Linked DNA regions of Homo sapiens. The protein of the gene in region 1 purifies or fractionates together with the protein of each later gene. This does not show direct contact. Each region holds a gene or a part of one and is shown on either strand. Other genes may lie near its edges.

Evidence for each region.
Region 2: the proteins of DBI (region 1) and SLC25A32 fractionate together in Homo sapiens (co-fractionation; one large-scale study listed by BioGRID). This does not show direct contact.
Region 3: the proteins of DBI (region 1) and GALM fractionate together in Homo sapiens (co-fractionation; one large-scale study listed by BioGRID). This does not show direct contact.

Annotation. Positions count from the first base shown.
Region 1 is NC_000002.12:119,365,588-119,369,925, reverse strand, and holds the start of DBI (acyl-CoA-binding protein), read right to left. Parts: upstream 2,950-4,338; 5' UTR 2,875-2,949; coding exon 2,866-2,874; coding exon of another isoform or gene 2,836-2,865; exon of another isoform or gene 2,590-2,835; coding exon of another isoform or gene 2,398-2,589; intron 2,368-2,397; exon of another isoform or gene 2,342-2,367; coding exon of another isoform or gene 2,282-2,341; intron 2,213-2,281; exon of another isoform or gene 2,007-2,212; coding exon of another isoform or gene 1,995-2,006; intron 1,739-1,994; coding exon 1,621-1,738; intron 1-1,620.
Region 2 is NC_000008.11:103,398,138-103,401,771, forward strand, and holds the end of SLC25A32 (solute carrier family 25 member 32), read right to left. Parts: intron 3,525-3,634; coding exon 3,379-3,524; intron 2,410-3,378; coding exon 2,274-2,409; 3' UTR 501-2,273; downstream 1-500. UniProt on the Homo sapiens protein: Facilitates flavin adenine dinucleotide (FAD) translocation across the mitochondrial inner membrane into the mitochondrial matrix where it acts as a redox cofactor to assist flavoenzyme activities in fundamental metabolic processes including fatty acid beta-oxidation, amino acid and choline metabolism as well as mitochondrial electron transportation.
Region 3 is NC_000002.12:38,672,513-38,676,161, reverse strand, and holds part of GALM (galactose mutarotase), read right to left. Parts: intron 251-3,649; coding exon 96-250; intron 1-95. UniProt on the Homo sapiens protein: Mutarotase that catalyzes the interconversion of beta-D-galactose and alpha-D-galactose during galactose metabolism.

The DNA.
Region 1 (4,338 bases):
ATATTTGCAATGTCCAATTCAGGAGCCACTTGCCACACCAAGTACCTGAAATGACTACTGGGCATCTGAAATGTGGTTCCTGTGAATGAAGACTAAACTTGATTTTATTTAACTATTTTCAGTTAAAATTTTTTTTTTTAGAGACAGAGTCTCGTTCTGTTGCCCAGGCTGGAGTGCAGTGGTGCGACCTCGGCTCACCACAACCTCTACCTCCCAGGTTCAAGCGATTCTCCTGCCTCAGCCTCCCAAGTAGCTGGGACTACAGGCATATGCCACCATGCCCAGCTAATTTTTGTATTTTTAGTAGAGATGGGGTTTCACTACGTTAGCCAGGTTGGTCTCAAACTCCTGACCTCATGATTCGCTTGCTTCGGCCTCCCAAAGTGCTGGGATTACAGGCATGAGCCATAGCGCCCAGCCTCAGTTAAAATTTATATAGTCATATGTGGCTACTGGCTATTATACTAAACTATCGTGTTTGGACTATCATGTTTTATAATCGTGTAATAGGGCTGTATAGTACAGCCCTAGAGAGAGCCGATGACACCTCTTTGATCAGTAAGTGATAGATTCCTATGCCAGTCTATCTAGACTCATGTGAAAATCGGTAACTCTAGTACGGGCACAGGCCAGTCTCTGTGAAAATACTGTTTGTCAGAAAAGCATCTTGGCACCTCTGGCCTCCCCCACTTCACCTTTCCTTCCCCTCCCTGGAAGGACAGAGTTTACGAACTCACTGTAAAACTCACCTTCGCCATAAGACCTTCTTCAACTAAGTGCTCCATGTGAACCCCAGGGTTTGATATGGTACTGCCTGTGATCTGTCATTCTGGGTACTATTTCCTGCTTCCAGCTGGTTGGCAGCCAGCCCACCTGCTCCATCTTCCACCCCAGCTACTGCGGAAATAGGGACCATGCTCGCCTTCTTCCTCAGCAGGGGCAGGGGAGACCTCCCTTCTGTGCTGCCATGATAACCCTGAGTCCTTGCACAGAATGCACTGCGCTGTTGCCTCAGTATCCACCCATGTTTCAGGGACTTAGGGACAGAATGAAACCTGCCCAAGGCAGGAAAGATGTTATTACAGAACATGACAGTCCAAAGCACAGCCTCAAAATCTGCACCAAGATTTCTGGGCAGGGAAAAAGTTATCATCAGGAAGGCACAGACTTGTTAGCGAAATGCTCTGACCTAGCCCAAGAAACCAGGTGCTTCTCTGCTCCTGACATCAGGCTTGGCCAGGCTGTCAAGTGCTCCAAAAAGTGCTCCAACTTTGATCCTGCCCATCTAGGGCAGAAGCTGAACGGCTCAACAATGATACTACTGAGCTGAGAGCCTTCAGCAAGTCTTTTCCAAGCTGCAGCCTTTGCTTCTTCCCTAGTAGAGAGTAGCTGCTGGTGATAACCAGTAAAGACCTTCTAAAACCAGGATTTGAATTCTGTTACTACTGGAGACACTGAGAATCCGGAACATGGTCTTTTCCACCTCAGGAACCATCACCATACCCCACCTGAAGAGTAGGGCCTCAGGCAGTTTGAGAGTGAAGTTCCCAGGGACTTCCAGTCTGAGCTGCTGAGCCTGCTTTGATGAGCAGATGCCCTTCCAACCCCCGCTCTGCATACCTGTATTTATGTCGCCCACAGTTGCTTGTTTGTAGTGGCCATAGATGAACAGCATCTCCTCATCCGATGGCTTGGTCTTAAGGTGCCTAACCTCCTCTGCAGCTTTCTCAAACTCAGCCTAAATGGAAGGGAGAGGAGAGGATTGAGGGCCTCCTCTGGGTGGGAGAGGGTAAGAATCCTACTGTGGCCTGATGACAGCCCAGTTACGGGGATGGAGAGGTGGGAAAGGTGGCACCCTTCGGGCAATGCAGCCCCTGAAGTGTGTCTGCCCCTCCCTGCCCCAACAGGGCAGCTAGAAAGATTCAGCAACACAAGAAGGGGAAGCCCCTCCAGTTCACTCATTCAATCGAAAACCATATATCCAGAGCTCTCACAAACGCAGGCATCAGGTCTGGAAATACAGCAGTGAAGAGGGCAGGCCAAGCCTTCGCCCCCAGTGGGGGTCCCCTCTGCGGGAGAAGCAGCGCGGCCAACTGCCTGGCCACCACCGGGCCAGGCACTAGGGAGTGGCCGGGGCTGCAGCGAAGCCCTGGCCTGAGGACAGACGGGGCACAGTATGCTGGAAACAGCTGAAAGGGGACAGGGCATGAGTGCCGCGGTGTCAGCGCCGGAGCCCGTTGGTCCCCTCCCTCCCCCTGGGGCCCGCGCGTTCAACACCGACCTCTGTCCCAGTGCCCGGATTGGCAGAGGCAGGCGGGAGGAGCCAGAGGTCGCCCCACATAGCTCGGTCTCAGACAAGGGTCTACACTGGAGAGAAGGGAGGGGCCCCTGGGTCACCTCTCCCCGGGCCGCGATTCTCCTCGTCCCGCACTCTGAGCAGCCGGCCCCGTACTTCCCCTGACCTCCAAGCTCTCGGCCACGGACTCCTCGCTTCCCCACTCCGCCGCGACGTCCTGCCCTGTGCTTCGGGATGGGGACTGAGTCTCCTCGCTCCTCCAATCCGTGCAACCCCTTCCCCCATCTCTCCATCAAGCACCCTCGACTCCCACCCCTCTCCCGCTACACAGCGAAGTCCACCCCATGGGCAACTTTCCGGCAGTTGCGGGGTGGGCAGCAGATTTAGAAATCCCCAAACGGAAAATCCCGCTCACAAGGCTCTGTCCAACGAATCAGGGCTAGGCATGGGCCCATGAGCAAGTGAGGGGCACGGAAGGAAAGAGCCCGAGAGCTTCTGGCAGCCGGCTGAGCCCCCAACGGGCCTCCCGCCCGCTGCACCTTCGCAGCCTGGCTGTGCACGCGCTGTACCTGAGACATCCTGGCCGACTTGCAAGAACTCCAGGGAGACAGCGGAGGAGGCGAGGACCAGGAAGCGATCGCCCAGATTGCACTGGCAAGCGCCTTTAGAGGCGCGGTCCACTCGCCCCAACCCTGCTCGGGCGAGCACCGGAAAGCCAATCAGAAGCCAGCTATGCGCTAGGGGCGTGCCCAGCCCCCGCCGCGGCGCTAGCCCCGCCCGAGCCCACGTGGGACCGCTTGCGCAAACGCCGGGAGTAGCCGAAGGGGACGCCGGGAACAGGTGGGGACAACGGAAGTAGGGTGCTTAGTTTTGCTGCCGGGAGTTGGTCGAGAGTTGGGTTCAGTCCTGGCCCGTTGTGGGGACGGCACGCGGGGGAAGGGGAGGGGACGGAGACCGAAGAACGGAGGTCCTTATGTTTCTTTTCTTTCCTTAAATCTTGCCCGGCCTGAAGAGGCCGGAAGTTGCATCTCTGGACAAGTAAACTCTGAGACCTGGGAATGGCGGGCGGGACCCGCTCCTCCCTTGGGGTCTAGAGGAGACCCCCGGAGATGGTCCCTGATGAGCAGCGTGATGGTGGAAAGCTGGACTGGTCTCCCGAAAGGCGAAGCCGAGGCTTCTTCCTCTGAACTTTTGGCACGTTCTTTGACTTGCTTGTGGCCGTAGTGTCAGGCCTGTATTGCACATTTATGTCTGTGGTGCATTTCTCCATCTGGTGCGTTAAAGGCAGGGACGGTGTCTTATTTGTCTTGATTTAACAAACTTGGACGGGACGAAGTGCTCAGCAAATATTTGTTAAATGAATGGCTGTTTATTGAACTCCTGTTGGGTAACTTGCACTGTTCTAGACCTTGGCAGACAGCAGTGAACAAAGCGGGTGAATCCCTGCAATCTTGGAACTTACAAGTAGGGACAGTAGTTTATACAATAAGTTAAATATAGAGTACTTTAGGGGCTTAGAGAGTTGGAAGTTTATAGTTTTAAATGGAGGAGGGGGAGTATTGAGGGAAGGTGACATTTGAGAAAGTTCCTCAAGGAGGGGAGGGAAGATTCCAAGCAGAGAACAAGTGTAAAGGCGTGGGCAAGGAACCAGGGGAAGAGTAGAAAGATGAGGCTGGAGAGTTTTGGCGGTGGCAGACTGGCTAGGTGATGCAGAAGTTGGCCATCACAGGGACTTTGACTGTCATGCTGAGTGAGATGGGAAATCGTAAAAGGGTTTGAAAAGAGGATGAGGAGACGGAGGGGAACGTCTTTGCGAGATTGTTACACAGCCTAATCTCCATGGGAACTGAAAGGAGCAGCACAGGTGTCTGGAAGTGTTTTAGGATCGATGTTTAAGAAGCTAAAGGAAGACTTCTCTGGCAGTGGTTGCAAAGGAGCTGGGTGAAGAGAGGGAAATGATGGAAAATTCTCTGGAGATCATTAAAAAAGCAAAGTCATTCCTCTCTAATTCATAATTTGTGGCAAGAGGGCTGGACTACAAA
Region 2 (3,634 bases), on another chromosome or scaffold:
TCACCCATCCCCTCTAGCCAACTTAATTCCTCCCTCAGGCCCTTTTTACTTCCTGTCCTCTCTGCCTAGAATGTGTTTCCTCTCACTGTGGCTCGCTTCCTCACTTCTTTCAAAATGTTCCAAATACTATCTCAGAGACCTTTCCTGACCCCAACCATACTACCTAAGATAGCAACACTATTCCCCCGTTCTGCTGTAGTTTTATTTATAGCATTAAATACCTGAAATTACATTATGCATATATTTCCTTTTCTGTCACTTACACCAAGATGAAAATTCCCTGAGGGCAGGAATATTGTCTGGCTTATTTATTGCTATATCCTCAGTGCTTGGTGACGTACCTGCCAAAGAGCAGGAGTTGAGTGACTATTTGTTGTTGAATGACTGAAATTGAGTTCTCTTCTGTCAGAACTCTTACCAGGCTTTGTGAGATATTCCTTACGAGTTCTTAATCTATAGCTGTAATTATTTAATGCATATTTATCTATCACACAAGCTTGTATGCTCTCAGAGGACAAGAATTATGTTTTATTCATTTGGGAGTACATAGGCGGTATTTAAACAATGGTGCTATCTTAAACACCAAATATCAACTGCAGTTCACTTTTTCCGTGTGGGGACTAATATCAAGATTTCATATGAATTATAGTATAATCCAGAAGTATGAAAAAATACATCATATTTAACTTATAAAGCATTCATCTGCATGTTATAAGATATTACAGTAAATACAATTAGGTACTTACCATTTTATCTTTACTTTAAAAACAATGCCTTTTCCAAAATATAAAAAAAAGACCTATTTTTAAAGAACTATTTAAAGATGGCTTTGAAAACAACACTTTTATTTACAACAAATAGATGGTAGTGCAACAGCACTCGTGGATGTTTACGATAAATAAAAATACTAGTATTCTGGCATCCTTTGGGTACAGGCCCTTTTATATTTATAGATGTCTACAATGACTCATAAAAGTAAAATCAATAAAGGCTATTAATTTGTATTTCAACCTGAATTTGAGAAACCAATGAAGATTAATCATTTATTTGGGATCTAGATCCATATATCTGAAAACTGAAGTATAAAGTTTCTCATTTCCATTTACCTTGTCAACAAACATATCCCAAACATTTCAGCATCTGTAAAAGGTGATCTATTTAGCATCTGTAATAAGTGATTTATAGTTATATATGCTAAATAAAGGTTGACACAGCTGGATCCTAGAAGCTCAGATTTTATAAATTTAAAATAGATTAAGTATTTATGCCAAAAAACAAGAACTGGATCTAGGATTTTATTTTAAATTATGGAAGTCTCTGGGGAAAAAAAATAGCAATGGAATGACAATAGATGTCAGATATTTCTCTGAGAAGTATATAGTTTCTCAATTTTCGCTAGGTAGTGCATCCCAACTGAATTAAAACTAAAGCATATTTACAGTGCATTTTTTCTCACTAAAATTTCCCAATTCTAAAATGGTCTGGCCAGGCGCAGTGGCTCACGCCTGTAATCCCAGCACTTTGGGAGGCCAAGGCAGGCGGATCACAAGGTCAGGAGATTGAGACCATCCTGGCTAACATGGTGAAACCCCATTTCTACTCAAAATATAAAAAAAAGTTAGCCAGGCGTGGTGGCAGGTGCCTGTAGTCCCAGCTACTCAGGAGGCTGAGGCAGGAGAATGGCGTGAACCCGGGAGGTGGAGGTTGCAGTGAGCTGAGATCACGCCACTGCACTCCAGCCTGGGCGACAAAGCAAGACTCCATCTCAAAAAATAAATAAATAAAAAAATAAAATAAAATGGTCTGGATTTGGTCAACACCTTATTCAGTAAATCCTTAATTTACCTTGAGACATACAAAGACATTCTTTTAAAGAGCTATTTTCTTGGTATTGCACAAAGGTTAATTTTAAAGCAATCCAGGCAAGTAAGCTCACAAAAAGAAGTACATTCATCTAATCCATTTAGCAAATGTTGCAAATCAGCTTCCACCAATAAAACGTAGAAATCTGTGAAACTCTATCCTTCGTGTCAGTTTTAACATTGTGTTGATGGCAGCCATTTCAGGCAGAGGTAGCCAAGTTCCATATATATGGGGAAGGCAAAAAGCAAGAAAAACATTGCAGGAGACTTAGCAGTTCTCTGGCTTCTAATGACTATAGAGCAATTTCGAATATGAGCCATGTTTCTATGCAGAATTCTTCTTTTATGCCTTAAACACAAAAGAGCTTGTTGCTGCCTTGGGCAGATATACTGGAATTGTCCTCTTTGAGCTTACTTTCTCTTTTCTCTAAGGTCAAGTAAAAAATGTGAGACGTTTTCATATACCACAAAGGTAATACAGCAGGCTGGAGTCACTCTAATCAAATTAGGAGCAATTCCCTTGTAAAATCCACCGACGCCTTCTTTCCTTTAGAGGGAAAAATAGATAATGCTTAATTTTGTATAGAGCTAGCTTGAAAACACGGAAGTTCTAACTGACACAAGGCATGGAGCAAGCAGCAGTCAAACCTTACTCTGATTTAAGTTCATGTTTTCAATGTCCTAAAGTAATGTAGTTTATAAGCCATCTGTAGGGATTTACATTCCTTTTATGGATGGACTGAGTAAGAGAGGGTAGGGACACCTCAAAACTGAACTAAAAAGTGCTTTCAATTAGCTATCTTTCAAATGCTTTTAAATGTATGTACAAGCAGGAGTTTTAATTGACCTAATGTAGGCATTAAAAAACCTCATAGCTTGGATAAATGCTAGCCAACATTAAATACAGCACATACAAATATAAAACTTTATTTCCTTAATGCCAATAATATGGAATACGGCCTAGAAATTTGTCACTTAGGTGCTCATTAAATATTTCTTGAATTGAATTAAATTTAAACATCCTAAATGTTCTCCTCTGTTCCTTTAGAATTAAAGGGAAATATGGTGATGTCTGCCTATAATAATTTAACTAGTCTCATACTGAAGAACAAACATCTCTTTCATATATGGAAACAAGTATTTGCAAAAGTTATGGTGCCAGTAGCAGGTGTGGAGCCTTCTTGAATGTATTAAGCTAGTCTTATGACTTCTTATATTCAATACCATTCAGATATTTTATAACACCTAAATTTTATTTTCCAAAACATTTTCACACATTTAATTTGATTCTTATAACAACCTATTAGTTAGAAAGTCTTACTTTACAAATGAAGAAATTAAGTCTCAGAGAGATTAAGGCCATGGTCACATACGTAATAACTGGGAAAGCAGGGACCACCAATCATGTTTTCACCACAGCAAACTGGCCTTTGCTATAAAACTAGTATCAACAGGATGGTCTAAGATATGCAAGGTACCTTGTCAAAGCAATTTTTGATATAGCACGTGCTCTCACCTCCATGTCTTTGTGATTACATCTATTACACCACTGTAAAACATGTGTTGATCCTGAAGACGAGCTCTTACGACTTGATATGGGTATGTTGCTGCGACAGCAAATATTTTGGATAGTGCTGCAACAGATATATATTCTACTGTGCTCTAAAATGGCAATACAAAACAGTTTTTTCTTTAGACAGGATTTCTTTAAAAATACAGAAGTAAAAATTATATACAAAAAACATTTAAATGGATCTTTAAGGGATTCTATT
Region 3 (3,649 bases), about 81 Mb from region 1:
ACTCATGTGCTCTAGGGCCTATGACTGTGCCTGGCAAGCAGAAGGTATGCGTAAAGTGAGCCTAAAGGGAACTCAGTCACATGTGCCGTACTTACTTTATCAAACCCTCTGACTCCTCCATGCAGACTGTTGGGTTCCTTGTTAATGGCCAGGTGATACTCCTTCCCATCCACCTTGAAGGTTCCTTTGGCGATTCGGTTGGCCACCCTCCCAATAACTGCTCCAAAGTATGGCTGCTTTTGGAGGTATCCTGCAAGGACAAGGGATGACAGCACTTTTAAAACTTCAATTCAGGCTGGGCACGGTGGCTCACACCTGTAATCCCAGCACTATGGGAGGCCGAGGCAGGCGGATCACAAGGTCAGGAGATCGAGACCATCCTGGCTAACACGGTGAAACCCTGTCTCTACTAAAAATACAAAAAAATTAGCTGGGCGTGGTGGCCGGCGCCTGTAGTCCCAGCTACTCGGGAGGCTGAGGCAGGAGAATGGCATGAACCTGGGAGGTGGAGCTTGCAGTGAGCCGAGACCGCGCCACTGCATTCCAGCCTGGGCGACAGAGCGAGACTCCATCACACACACACACACACACACACACACACACACACACACACACACAAAAAAAAAAAAAAAAAACAAAAAAACCCTCAATCCAAAGGTGTGTTGCATGCCACTGTCCCTCACCTTCTTCAGACGAATGCTGCACATGGTAACATCTTGGGCATGTCAAAGTCCTCACTGAATCACAGAAAATGGCTTTCATTACATACGATCCTTTCCTTTTCCAAAAGTAATTAATATTCATTATACAAAATTGTAAAGAATTTTATACAGCACAAAGAAAAAACTGAAATTATCCTTCATCTCATCACTCGAGAGAGCCACTGCTAATATTCTTATGTGCACACACTCTTCCATCTTTTAGTATATGCATCTGTGTGCTTTTTTCTTTCTTTTTATAAAACTATTTGTTGTGGTGGTGGTTGTTAAGACAGAGTCTCACTCTGTTGCCCAGGCTGGAGTGCAGTGGCCCCATCTCGGCTAACTGCAAACTCCATCCCCCAGGTTCAAGTGGTTTTCTTGCCTCAGCCTCCTGAGTAGCTGGGAGTAGAGGCATGCACCACCACACCAAGCTAATTTTTGTATTTTTAGTAGAGACGGGGTTTCACCATGTTGGCCAGGCTGGTCTCGAACTCCTGACCTCAGGTGATCTGCCCAACTCGGCCTCCCAAAGTGCTGGGATTACAGCCATGAGTTACTGTGCCCAGGCTTTTCTCTCTTTCAAAACATCTTATTGTACTGTATGCACCTATTTTCAATCCAAAGTTGACTCTGAGTAACTGAAACTGCAGGAAGCAAAACTATGGTTGAAGGGGGACTGTATAACACTGCTTTGTAATCTCCTTTTCTCTAGGCCAAAGTTATACTTTCGTGTGGTCTTGAGGGGAAGCGATCTTATTCTTTCTCTTCTTATTTTTTTAAATCACATAATTAGTACATTAAAATATCCTTTAGAGAGAGTTAGGTAATACACAAGGATATAGAGTAGGTTTGCCAGAGGAAATATAGAATGCTTGGTTAAATGTGAGTTTCAAATAAACAACAAATAATTGCTTAGTATAAGTTTGTTCATGTTATTATTATACATGGGACATACTTATACTTTAAAAGTTGTGTCCAGGCGCGGTGGCTCACGCCTGTAATCCCAGCACTTTGGCAGGCTGAGAAGGGTGGATCACGAGGTCAAGAGATTGAGACCATCCTGGCCAACACGGTGAAACCCCGTCTCCACTAAAAATACAAAAATTAGCTGGGTGTCGTGGCCTGTGCCTGTAGTCCCAGCTACTTGGGAGGCTGAGGCAGGAGAATCGCTTGAACCCAGGAGGCAGAGGTTGCAGTGAGCCAAGATCATGCCATTGCACTCCAGCCTGGCGACAGAGCGAGACTGTCTCAAAAAAAAAAAAAAAAAAAGTATAAGCTGTTTATTTGAAATCCACATTTAACCAGGCATCCTGTACTTTTATTTGTGAAGTCTAGCAACCTAAACAAGGACTAAAACACAAAAGCCTTCCTTCACCTCTCCACTCCCCTCCTTTCCAATGGTAACCACTATTAACAGTCTGGCACGTACACTTCATTTAAAAATTTGAATTAACTACATATTAGCAAATATATAAATACACAAACACACATATTCCATATAAAGAGAATCATACTACATAGAGTATCACACTATAATCGTACATTGTTCTGCAACTTTTCATTTATCAAATATCTTCAGATTGCTCCATGTCATGACATATCTACCATATTCCTTTTTATTTTTTTTTGAGTTCCCTTTTTTTTTTTTTTTGAGACGGAGTCTCGCTCTGTCGCCCAGGCTGGAGTACAGTGGCACGATCTCAACTCACTGTAAGCTCCGCCTCCCAGGTTCACGCCATTCTCCTGCCTCAGCCTCCCGAGTAGCTGGGACTACAGGCACCCGCCACCATGCCCGGCTTATTTTTTGTATTTTTAGTAGAGACGGGGTTTCACCGTGTTAGCCAGGATGGTCTCGATCTCCTGACCTTGTAATCCACCCGCCCCGGCCCCATATTACTTTTGATGGCTACATGGTATAATAATCAGCATAAACTGTTTGGGGCCTTTTTAGGGGAGGGGCTGTAAAAAGCAAAGTAGCGTCCTCATACTTACAACTTTGGGCGTGGGCATATTATGGTACTTTTCTTCTCTTTAAATTCCTCTGTGCTTACTTTACGATGGAAAAGATTAAGGTCTGGAGATTGTTTTCTGTATTATTACCAAGATTACTTTCCACTCTAGTTTTCACTTAGATGTCCTCTGAATTCCATTCCCTTTTCCCGTGGTACTCTGTATCTGTCATGTCTACTTCAGATCAGCAGAGAATGCAATTCAAGCATATGAACTATTTTTTCAAGGGATGGAGAGGCTCTCAGGATACAGACCCTGAGCTGATTAGGCCAGTTACAGGTCACAGGTTTCCATTACCCAACTGGTTGGGTACAAATTAAACATTAATCCTTCTCTTCCAGGCCTTTCCTGGTTTGCTTCTTTGCTAATCTGCAGGTGCATCAGAGTGTTGCCCATTGACTATCATAATAGCTAACACTTACTGAGTGTTGTGTTTTTTTTGAGACGGAGTTTTGCTCTTATAGCCTGGGCTGGAGTGCAGTGTGCGGTCTTGGCTCACTGCAACGTCCGCCTCCTGGATTCAAGCAGTTCTCCTGCCTCAGCCTTCCAAGTAGCTGGGATTACAGGTGCCCGCCACCAAGCCCAGCTAAATTTTTTTTTTTTTTTAATAGAGATGGGTTTTCACCATGTTGGCCAGGCTGGTCTCAAACTCCTGACCTCAGGTGATCCACCTGCCTTGGCCTCCCAAAGTGTGTCCCAGCCACTTTCTAAGTGCTCTACATTTACTTCATTTCATACTCAGAACGTTTCTATGATGTAGACACTATTACTATCCCAATTTACAGATGTGGAAACTGAGGACAGAAAAGTTAAATAACTTGCCCCAAAACACACAGCTAAGTAGTGGCAGAACCAAGACTTGAATCCAGACAGTCTAGCTCATGAGTCCATGTTCTTCAGTATCAAATTATGTGAAAAGCGCAGGCTTTCTGGTTATT